Homo sapiens: one gene and its partners. The protein of the gene in region 3 purifies or fractionates together with the protein of the main gene of each other region. This does not show direct contact. Each region holds a gene or a part of one and is shown on either strand. Other genes may lie near its edges. The genes, in order: UNC13B, FTO and DIRAS2.

Evidence for each region.
Region 1: the proteins of DIRAS2 (region 3) and UNC13B purify together in Homo sapiens (affinity purification with mass spectrometry; 2 studies listed by BioGRID and IntAct, with this or other methods). This does not show direct contact.
Region 2: the proteins of DIRAS2 (region 3) and FTO purify together in Homo sapiens (affinity purification with mass spectrometry; 2 studies listed by BioGRID and IntAct, with this or other methods). This does not show direct contact.

What each region holds. Positions count from the first base shown.
Region 1 is NC_000009.12:35,159,513-35,163,345, forward strand, and holds the start of UNC13B (protein unc-13 homolog B), read left to right. Parts: upstream 1-2,496; 5' UTR 2,497-2,771; coding exon 2,772-2,793; intron 2,794-3,833. UniProt on the Homo sapiens protein: Plays a role in vesicle maturation during exocytosis as a target of the diacylglycerol second messenger pathway.
Region 2 is NC_000016.10:53,819,156-53,822,755, forward strand, and holds part of FTO (alpha-ketoglutarate-dependent dioxygenase FTO), read left to right. Parts: intron 1-3,600.
Region 3 is NC_000009.12:90,636,051-90,639,883, reverse strand, and holds part of DIRAS2 (GTP-binding protein Di-Ras2), read left to right. Parts: intron 1-3,833.

The DNA of each region.
Region 1 (3,833 bases), about 55 Mb from region 3:
TCCCTGGTTCAAGCAATTGCCCTACCTCAGCCTTCGAATAGCTGGGATTACAGGTGCACACCACCAGGCCCGGCTAATCTTGAACTTGTGGGGTCAAGTGGTCCGCCCGCCTCAGCCTCCCAAAGTGCTGGGATTACAGGTGTGAACCACCGCACCTGGCCTAGAATTAGGATTCTTAAACAACGACTTCCTAGGAGAGAAAATTAAAAAAAAAAAAAAAAAAAAAAAAGGAAACAGCCAAAACCACTTCCTATAAACTGTGCTCAGCCACCCGTAACTTTGTAGCTCTTTTCCAACAATATACACACCAAGGTCAAATCCTCTCACAGTGCAAGGTCATCTCTGGCACCCAAAGCCAAAAAGGTCAGGTCATGCAATACAGGAAAACAGAGCTTTAGACCTAAGAAGAATCTGCCCATGACTCTTGAAATCCCACAAAGCCAAGAGAACACCCCAAAAGGGGGTGAGTGGCACCTTTGTTCTAAATTCTTTTTTTTTTTTTGAGATAGAGTCTTGCCCTGTCACCCAGGCTGGAGTGCAATGGCACGATCTCAGCTCACTGCAACCTCCGCCTCCCAGGTTCAAGTGATTCTCCTGCCTCTGCCTCCTGAGTAGCTGGGATTACAGGCACGTGCCACCATGCCTGGCTAACTTTTTTTGTATCTTTAGTCGAGACAGGGTTTCATCATGTTGGCGAGGCTGAGTCTCGAACTCCTGACCTCGTGATCCGCCCACCTCGGCCTCCCAAAGTGCTGGGATTACAGGCGTGAACCATGGCGCCCGGCCTAAATTCTTTAAAGAGGTTCAAGTCATTAGAAGCCTTCTCTCGATTTTTTGGTAATGCAGATGGCAAAGGGTGAAGGAGGTATAGGGTGGAAGAAAAGTAAACAAAAGAACAATTGAATTTTTTTTTTTTTTTTTTTTAATTTGAGACAGAGTCTCACACTGTAGCTCAGGCTGGAGTGCAATGGCTCGATCTCCACTCACTGCAACCTGCGCCTCCTGGTTCAAGCAATTCTCCTGCCTCAGCCTCCCGAGTAGCTGGGATTACAGGCACCCGCCACCATGCCCGGCTAATTTTTTTTGTATTTTCAGTAGAGACAGGGTTTCACTATGTTGGCCAGGCTGGCCTTGAACTCCTGACCTCGTGATCCGCCCGCCTCGGCCTCCCAAAGTGCTAGGATTACAGGTGTGAGCCACCGCGCCCGGCCTAAGAACAGTTTAATTTTTAAGACCAGGAAGCAAACACAGAAACCAAATACATGGTTTTTTGTTTTCTGTTTGTTTTTTCTTTTGCAGCTGTGAGGAATTTTACTCAAATTAGATAGGCCTTGTTACCCATAATTTGGAATTCTCACTTGGATTTGACCAAGTGAAGTAGAGTTGGTCAATGGGAAAAAGACAAACAAAATAAAAAAAAACCCAACAATATGATCACTGAGCACTCTAATGGTAAGCAGAAATTAAGACCAGCTGGTTGTTAACTTTAGCCAAGACAAAAATCCCTATTCAGCTACTTACCTAGGGGTGCGTCTCAGGCTGAAAACGGCTGTCTACCATCCCAGAAGTAGGAAAAAAACCCCTCATCTTCCCTGTTGGAAGTGAGCTCAAACTCCATAAAAGAGTTACCTGCCTTCCCTCGTCATGGAAGCAGGAAAACTTGCCTTCCTTGTTGGAAGCAAGTAAAACTCCAAAATAATAATAATAATAATAATAATAATAATAATAATAGAGGGAGTTGTACAACAAAATGAACTTTAGATCTCGACCAAATTTTGGGAGATCAGGGATTCTCTGGAGGGGGTGCTCCTAGACCTTAGCAAATTGTCCTGTTGGTTTGAGCCATGGAGTTAGCTCATGTTGGTACCAAGCATGGATAGGAGATTTGTCAAAGATCAGAGGTATCTCCACTCACAATCCCTCCGTGGTTACCATCCTTCATTCAGTAAATATTTACGGACTGATTACCATACACTAGGCACTATTCCAGACATTGGAGATACAATGATGAGCATAAAAAACGGTCTAGATAAGAACTGAGGTCTCCAGACATACTTTATGCCCACTCAGTTTTGTCTTTTGCCCTAGTTGCTAAACAAAACTTAACTTTGCTGTGCGGTGCGACTTCGTTAACTTAAAATTACAGGCTGTCAGCTATGACCGCTAGACTCTAAGAAAGTCCAGTGGAAATCCTTCAATGAAAAGAATCTGTTCTTGGGTGGAAGCCCCGCTCATGCAGGAGGAACAGAGGGCTTCCATTCTCGCGTCACACAACTGAGGGTCAACCCCTTGCTCCCTGCAGTAAGCCTGATTAGTGGGCGGAGCTTCCTTCAGGATCGCAAGAAAGAAAGGAGGAAGGGGACCCCGCCTCCTACGTGCTCGCGGGGGGGGGCGGGGTCGGTGGACTGGGCGTGAGTTAATTGGCTGGGGGGCGGGGCACCACGGGTTGGCTCCGCCCAGGCGCTCGCGCGGATCCCGGGTGGAATGACGGGAGGGAGTCCCGGCAGCTCCTACCTCCCAGCGATGGCGTCGCTGTGCCGCGCCCAGTCCCCAGCCTGCCGGCCGGTACTCACCGCTACCCGGAGTTCGCTCAGACGGTGAGATTTGGGGCGGGTCCGAGGCAGCGGCGGGACGCTACCTGCGACCGGGACCATGAGGAGCTGCCAGACCCGTGGGGCCGGTAACGAGAGCAGTCGCGGCACCTGCTGAGAGGAAAGAGGGAGCGGTCCGGCGCGGCTGGGGCGCGGCAGAGGCTTGCCCGATCCTCGGCCATGTCACTGCTCTGCGTGCGCGGTGAGTGCGCGGACTGAGGCGGGGAGGCGGGGTGTCGGCGTAGAGGTCCCCGCACCCTTCCAGTGGACGTCCGGTGACCGTCTCACCCAAACTTTACATCCCGTCCGTGCTTTGGGGGTCTATTATTTTGGCAATCACTTAACAATCACTTGAGTTCTTTCCACTTTCTTGTTTTCCCCCAAGCTCCTGCAAGGGACGATTAGCTCTCCATTCTGGTAGCCATGTGACAATGTTGTTGGACTGCAGGCTCAGATCCTATTAAACAGTGACTGGGGTTCTCTAGTGAGAGTGGACGAGTTAGAAGACCGCGGATGGTTGGTGCCTGTGAATGGTGGGCAGCCTCTCATTCTTTTCCTCCTCCTCGCACCGTAACGCTACAGTATGCTTAGTAGCAGGTTCTTTTTATCACACTTTGAATGCGTTAGTGGTACAGCTGTCACATCCCTTCTATTGCTTGTCTTGTCCCCTGCCACTTCCCTGAACACTAACCGGTAGTATAGGCTAAGATTATTCTTCTGTTCCACTTGGGAGGATGTGGTGACTGCTTTTGAGGATAAGAGGTATGATTTATTTTTATTTTTATTTTAGCTTGCCTCACAGTAACTCAAGGTGAAGGGCCATTATTGCTTTTCCCCTGAGGACACTTGACCCATCTAAGAAGATATCTTAAAGCAAGAGCTTTGGGGTTTAAGATGAGGCATGGTACGCGAACTAAGTTCTATGTGGGTAGAGACTGTTTCTTATTAGTTTTTGTATTCCTGGTGTCTGACGTAGTAGAAGCTTAATGCTGGTTTTGAATGAATGCAAGTACTGTGACTTCAGAGAGATTATCTGATCAGGAAAACACAGGGTTTGGATTAGCCATTGAATTTGATCTCGGGAAATTCAGGTTACAGCCTATCATATCTGATGTGTCTTGATTATGAATGAGAGAGCATTTATCAACTAGAGCCTTTACCTGATATCTTTTACTGGAGAGTTCATATTTCTTTTGGCTCTACAGATTAGAAGCATTGTTGTTGTTTGTGATTTCTCCAATA
Region 2 (3,600 bases), on a different chromosome or scaffold from region 3:
ATATATTTTCCAACTTTGATACAGTTAATATTTATTTATTTATCTATCTTTGAAATGGGGTCTCACTCTGTGGCCCAGGCTTAGGCTCACTTCAGCTTCCACTTCCTGGGCTCAAGCCATCCTTCCACCTCAGCTGCCCAAGTAGCTGGGACCACAGGTGCATGCCACCACACCTGGCTAATTTTTTTGTATTGTTAGTAGAGAGGGGATTTCACCTTGTTGCCCAGGCTAGTCTCGAGCTCGTCAGCTCAAGCAATACACCCGCCTGAGTCTCCCAAAGTGCTGGGATTACAGGTGTGAGCCACCACGCCCAGGCAGTTAATTTTTTTATGTGCTAAGAGGCTTCTCTATTAATTTGCTTGTGAATGGGTGTGTGTGTGTGTATTTAAATTTTTAATGGTTCTGCATTAATGTTTCTGCATTCCTGCCATATAGGTTGTACTTTTTTTTTCCAGTTTGTTTGCCTTTTAATTTTATGATTTATTTTATACAAAAATTTAAATTTTCAGATATTCACATCTATCAATCTTCTTTTTCAAAAAGTTTATTGATTAACTGTATATGTGTATAATTTACATACCATAAAATGCACGTTTTGAAATTGTACAATTCAGTGATTTTTGGTAAATTTCCAGAGGCATACAACCATCATCACAGTAGTTTTAGAACATTTTTAGCACCCCAAAAAGATCTCTCATGCCTCTTTACATTTAGTTTTCTTTCCTGCCCCAGCCAAGATCTCCACTCATCTGCTTCAGTCTTTTAAAGCTTTTATTCTTAGAAAGGAGTCTTGAGCACTTATGTGGAACCAAGTGATGTGGCTATAACAGATACTAATGCTATTTTCTTCTTCTTCTTTTTTTTTTTTTTTGAGATGGAGTCTTGCTCTGTCACCCAGGCTGGAGTGCAGTGGTGTGATCTCGGCTCACTGTAACCTCTACCTCCCGGGTTCAGGTGATTCTCCTGCTTCAGCCTCCTGAGTAGCTGGGATTACAGATGCCCGCCACCACGCCCAGCTAGTTTTTGTATTTTTAGTAGAAACAGGGTTTTACCTTGTTGGCCAGGTTGGTCTCGAGCTCCTGACATCAGATGATCCAGCTGCCTCGGCCTCCCAAAGTGCTGGGATTACAGGTGTAAGCCACCGCTCCAGGCCACTAGTACTATCTTCTTTTAGGAGCTTGTGATCTTACAGGACAGATTATTAAACTAATAATAGTTTAAATAAATATAGTTACAAATAGATAAGTGCTACAAAAGAGAAGTAAAGCGTGGGGAGTGATAACAGAGGGCACCTATTTGAGGGTGGAGATTCAGGAAAGGTTTCCTTTTTTTTTTTATTATACTTTAAGTTTTAGGGTACATGTGCACATTGTGCAGGTTAGTTACATATGTATACATGTGCCATGCTGGTGCGCTGCACCCACTAACTCATCATCTAGCTTTAGGTATATCTCCTGATGCTATCCCTCCCCCTCCCCCCACCCCACAACAGTCCCCAGAGTGTAATATTCCCCTTCCTGTGTCCATGTGATCTCATTGTTCAATTCCCACCTATGAGTGAGAATATGCGGTGTTTGGTTTTTTGTTCTTGCGATAGTTTACTGAGAATGATGATTTCCAGTTTCATCCATGTCCAGGAAAGGTTTCTATAAGAAAATGACCCAGGGATGGGAAGGACCATCCAGGTGTGGAGTTGGGGGAGGAGCCTGGGGGAAGTATTTAAGAGCTGGACACTTGAGGACTGCAGGAATAGAAGCACATATGGTCAGAGAGAAAGGGGACATGATCTGAGTGGGAAAAAAATGGAATATTTTCCCATGCCATTATTTTCTTTTTATGCTGTTTTTTATGTCAAGGTATTTACAGATGATATTTATGTGGTTATATGTTTTTCCTGGTCTATAGGGTTATAATTTCCCCATATTAAATATATCTTATGCAGTGTTGAGACCCAGTGTATGTTGAATAAGGGCAGCAGAATTTTAATGGGGGGTGGGCAGGCGTTTGTGCATATGAGTGCATTATTTTCAGTATTCCTTTCTTAGTCCCAGAGGGGAGTGTGTTCAGAAACAGAGTTCTTGGGAATTACCATACTTTTCTTTATTGTTTTATACTAAGGACCATTCAGAGAGTACTGGAGGTGTTAAGACAGTGTGAAGAAATTACCTTCTTCATCACTTCTTCATCATTGCTTTGAGTATACTGGGGCCTCAGGGACTTGCTAAGAAAGTAACCAGTATAGTGATAGAATTAGAGTTGCTGCTCATGGCTTCAGAATATTTGGTCTCTGCTTACAGGATTGCATTGCTTTCTTCATAAGCTATGTAAATAGAAAGTACGATATCACTGTTTCTGTTTTCCAATGGGGATAACTAAAATATGGAAACTCAATCCTTAATGGATCCCTGACAATCTCAATGACAATCCATAGTGGTATGCCACATGACTCTTCTCTTTGTCACTTTCAATTCATGGTCAACACCTCAGATAGGCATTTTGAGAAGCAGGGCAGTCCTACCACACTTACCTAGTAAAGTCATTTTTTCACATTCAGACTTGACTCATTCATTTTTCTTCTGCATACTTCCTCCCACTTTCTGCATGTCTTCTATAATATCTCCTGCACTCTGCCTCATTCAGAACAGGCTAGATTATGCTATAGTAACTGATAACTCTCAAATCTCAGTGGCTCCACACAATAATATTTCTTGTCCATTTTATGTATCATTTGTGGGTTGGCACAGAGTCACTACCCATTAAAGTAGCTCAGAGATCCAAGCAGCCACCAGCTGGTTGCTGTGGCAGAGGGGTGCAGAGTATGCTGGAGGGTCTTGCAGTGACAATGACATGTTCCAGGCTGGAAGGGATGGCCATCATTTTTCACTGGACAGAAGTAATCCCATGTTTCATCCATCCTGAGGGGACCAGGAAGTGTAATTTTACACTGGGCCCAAAAAGCTGGGTGGCAGAGGAGGAATCCAGAACTATTTGGCAAACAGCTCTAATGACCAGCATACATTCTTAGCTAGTGATTCACCTTAACTTCATTGAGAAAGTCAGAGCATTCTCTAACTACCACCCCTCCAAAAGAAACCCTAGAACGTACTCATCTGCCTACTATTATTACATTTATCATCCTATCTGAATTCATACCTTCTTTTTCCTTCTAGCCTATTCCAATATAAGAAGTATCTTCTCTCCTATCCACATATTTTTGATCACATACTCTTATCAGTAGATAAGCACATACAGTGACATCCTAGAAAGTGTTTAACAAGTGGCCTGTAGGGGGAAAGAACCAGCCTTGATTTTTAGTGTTTTTTGATTTCCGCAGTGTAAATACTCTCACTGTGGACAGTTTCAAGCCACCGTCACGGTGTTACTGAATGTGCAGTTGGAAAGAGATGCACACAGTGGGCTCTCATGAGCCAGTGTGGACTGACTCCAGCACACCACCAGTAGTGTGCTGGTGGTAGTACTCATGTACTCGTGTCTGTTTTATAATAATATTCATATTAAACCTATTTGTGTGTATATGTGTGTGTGTATATATATATATGCATACATATTTTAATAATGCTTGAGTTCTTTCATTTTATA
Region 3 (3,833 bases):
GCGCTATCAAAAATAAATATACAAATGATCTCAGATTGCTGTGAGTTATGTGTCCTTCTCTTTCCTGCCATTAACTGTGGTGCTGTCTTGAACCTATTACTTAGTTCTTTATCAGAAAGACAAAAGGATTAGATCAAATAATTCCTGTGATTCTATGAAAAATAACCAGTGAGTAGATACGAGGGATCCAACTCACATGCAGCCTAGGGGTTTATTGTGGCAGAAACAAAGGAAACAGGTATGCCTGATGGGCATCATCATTTTGCACCACTACTAACTTCTATCCCAAGAAGTACTGCCCCCCCGGGTTTGCTTCAACCTTATTCTTGATTGCAGAGGTCAGCAACTTAGCCCGCAAGTCCCATTATGGGTCATTCAATTCTCATATAATTTCTTTTACTGAACAAGCAGCAGCAAACCCATTATAAAACTAATGAACAGCTAGTGGGCTATTCTGTACTATGCAATAAAATATATTTCACAGATCTTTTAGTATTATGCTTTACTGGTATGAGTATTTTCAATGTTTGTCTCTATTTGACACCATTAGATAAAGTTTAGGGTGAAATCTCATGCTTTATAATTGACCCATGAATACCGGATTCTTGAAACACAGAAATTAATGACCTTAATGAAAATATGTCCATTTCTTTATCTAATCCCTGAACACCTCCATGATCAGTGAGTGCTCGTGGGGTGGGTACAATTTCCATCACATGGTTCTCTGTCTCAGAAATTATGATAGGAGACTTAAAGAGGGCAGCGTTTTGTATGAGAGGATCTGGGGCAATATTTTTCTAAAGCTAATTAATGTCTGCAAAGTGATTATTTTTCTGAGAAAATAAGAACGCAAGAACTTTCCATTAGGCCTTCTCATAATAAACACACACACGCCCTTCCTCCTTTACCATCTTTAGATAATCATCAGAGCTCAGACAAAGGAGCCTTTGAAGGAGGAAGATTTCCTTCCTCTGTCATCCTTACACTCTGTTTTATTGGAGCACTTTTGTGCCTTTTGAGTTTGGGAGTTTCTCTCTAGAAGATGCGGAACAAAAAGGAAAAGTGATCAGAATCCAGGTTTCTTCATCGAGGGCAAATCCAGGTGGAGTCCACTCAGCTCTCTATTTGCATAAAAAAAATCCAGCTCAGTGCCATTTTTGTACAAACTTAGACTCATCTCCCCAGCCTTATCACCCAGCTACCTACCACCCCAATTACGTGCACACACACACACACACACACACACATGATCAATGGAGTATTTCATTGCCTCCTTGCCTATAAAACAATCATCTGACACTTAAAAAGGGATTGACTAAGCCTTTTGCTTCCTTCTCTTTACCTTTGTGCTTCTCTCTTGGGACCTCTTTGGCCTTCACTGGGTTCTTATTACAGAAGGAATGGTAGCAGACCACAAAATGTAAAACTGACATTAGCTTTTGAGTAAGGTCTGTGTAAATGTTTGCAAGCCAAGAAGAGATAGAACTACTGGATAATAGAAATGGCTGGGTAACCTAGATTTTGAAAAGAACTTGAATTTCTCTGAATATCATGAAAACCATGTGCTTATCTATTTTTTTAATTTTGCCAGATTTACATATAATGCTTTGTGCCTCTCTTTTTTGTTCTTCCATTCTTTAAATGCTAGTTTAAATTCCTCCACATACATAATAGTTTCAAGATGCAGAAATAAATCAAGTTGTTGTAACAAATATTTAAACATAAAAAACGAAGAGGTAAATATGGGAGAATTTTTAGTGGTTTCAGAGTAGGGGAGGACTTTTTAAGGATGAACTCAAACTGAAATACTAAAAAGGAAAAGTTTGTTAAATTGGATATACAGAAATTTTAAATTTCTGTCCAGAAGACAATTAAAAATAGATAACATCAAAGGAAAGATATTTGCAACATATTTCAGATGAGGCCTAATTTTTTAAAATACAGTGGTTCTCAAATTTTGTAAGCATCAGAATCACCTGATGGCCTTGCTAAGCCTGAGACTGCTGACTTCAAACCCATGCGACTCTGATTCAGCTGATCTGACTCAACGGGGAACAGGCTTTCTAACAAGGTCCCAGTGAAGGGGACAGTGCTGATCTTTCAAGCACAGCCGGAGAGCCACGGCCTTAATCTAAGATAATACCATCCCTGCAAACTACTAAAAACCGAGCAAAGAACAAGAACACACCGGTTTCAAAGATACAAATACCAATCACTTTTAACAGAAAAGACGCTCAATGTCACCCAAATTAAGCAAATGCAATTAATTCAGTAATGAGAAACAGACATCTTGTTTCAATGGAAGGGATCAAAGAGTTTGATAATACACCATATTATGCAAGGTTTGGGGAAATAGCACTCATACACCTTCATGGGACAGGTGATGGAGAACTTGATAGTAATTTTCAACAGCAACAGGCCATCTCTACCCAATTTGAAGTGTACCTACCGTTTGATTCTGCAGTTCCATTTACAGGAGTTTTCTCTACAGATAGGCTCAGAAACATGAAATATTTAAGTATAAGGTTTTCATTGAGCAAAAGACTGAAAATAGCAAGAAAGTGGTTAATAAATGATAGCTTATCCCTCAGCAGAGTCTTCTGAAGCTGTTAAAAAACACAATCTGGCTCTATATATACTAATATGAACAAATCTGTAGATGGCTCCTAACTTGCAATGTTTCAATGTATGATGTTTTGACTTTACAATGGTGGGACTACTACATACATTCGGTAGAAACTGTACTTCAATTTTTGATATTTTCCTGGGCTGGTGATATGCAGTGATATATTTTATGATATTCTCTCACTATGCTGGGCAGTGGCAGTGAGCCATAGCTGTTAGTTATCCTCATGATCACCAAGGGAAACAACTGATACTCTATAATTGACTATGTTGCCAGAAGACTTTGCCCAACTGTAGGCTAATGAAGGTGTTCTGTGCACGTTTAAGGTAGGCAAGGCTAAGCTATGGTATACAGTAGGTTAGTTGTATTAAATGCATTTTTGACGTGATATTTTCAACTTATGAGGGGTTTATCAGACTGTAGCCACATGGTAAGTTGAGGAGCAACTGTACATGAAACACTGTGTATACCATACTTCCATGTATTTGTCTATCTCTCTGACTAAATAGCTATCAATTGATATCTGTCTCTCTTTGACTATGTACCATTTTGTTAACACTTGATCACAATTCTGCTCCCTTAGCAATGACCACTCAAATCATTTAGTCACATGCTAAATGTTCCACTACCATTCAATTTATGCTTTTGACAAGAGACCATTTCTGGTGATTGAGAAAAAAATCATGTTGAGTAAGTTGCCATTGTGAGTTAATGTGAAACAATGAGCCAATGAAGTTACCACATTGTAGAAATATTCAAGTTTGTCATATTTTGTTGCATTTCAAACAAAATATTGTTGATTTTTGCATGGTAACTTTTTGGTGATATGTTTATTCTTACAGAGGCATTCTGTAAGAATATTCAGGGCCGGGCACCATAATTGCAAACCATCTTATCCACACCCTTGGCTTCCATCCCTACCTCAATGCAGGTAGCTCACGCCTATAATCCCAGCACTTTGGGAGGCCAAGGCGGGTGGATCACGAGGTCAGGAGATGGAGACCATCCTGGCTAACACCGTGAAACCCCATCTCTGCTAAAAAATACAGAAAATTAGCCGGGTGTGGTGGCGGGCGCCTGTAGTCCCAGCTACTCAGTAGGCTGAGGCAGGAGAATGGCGTGAACCCGGGAGGCGGAGCTTGCAGTGAGCCAAGATCGCACCACTGCACTCCAGCCTGAGTGACGGAGCGAGACTCTGTCTCAAAAA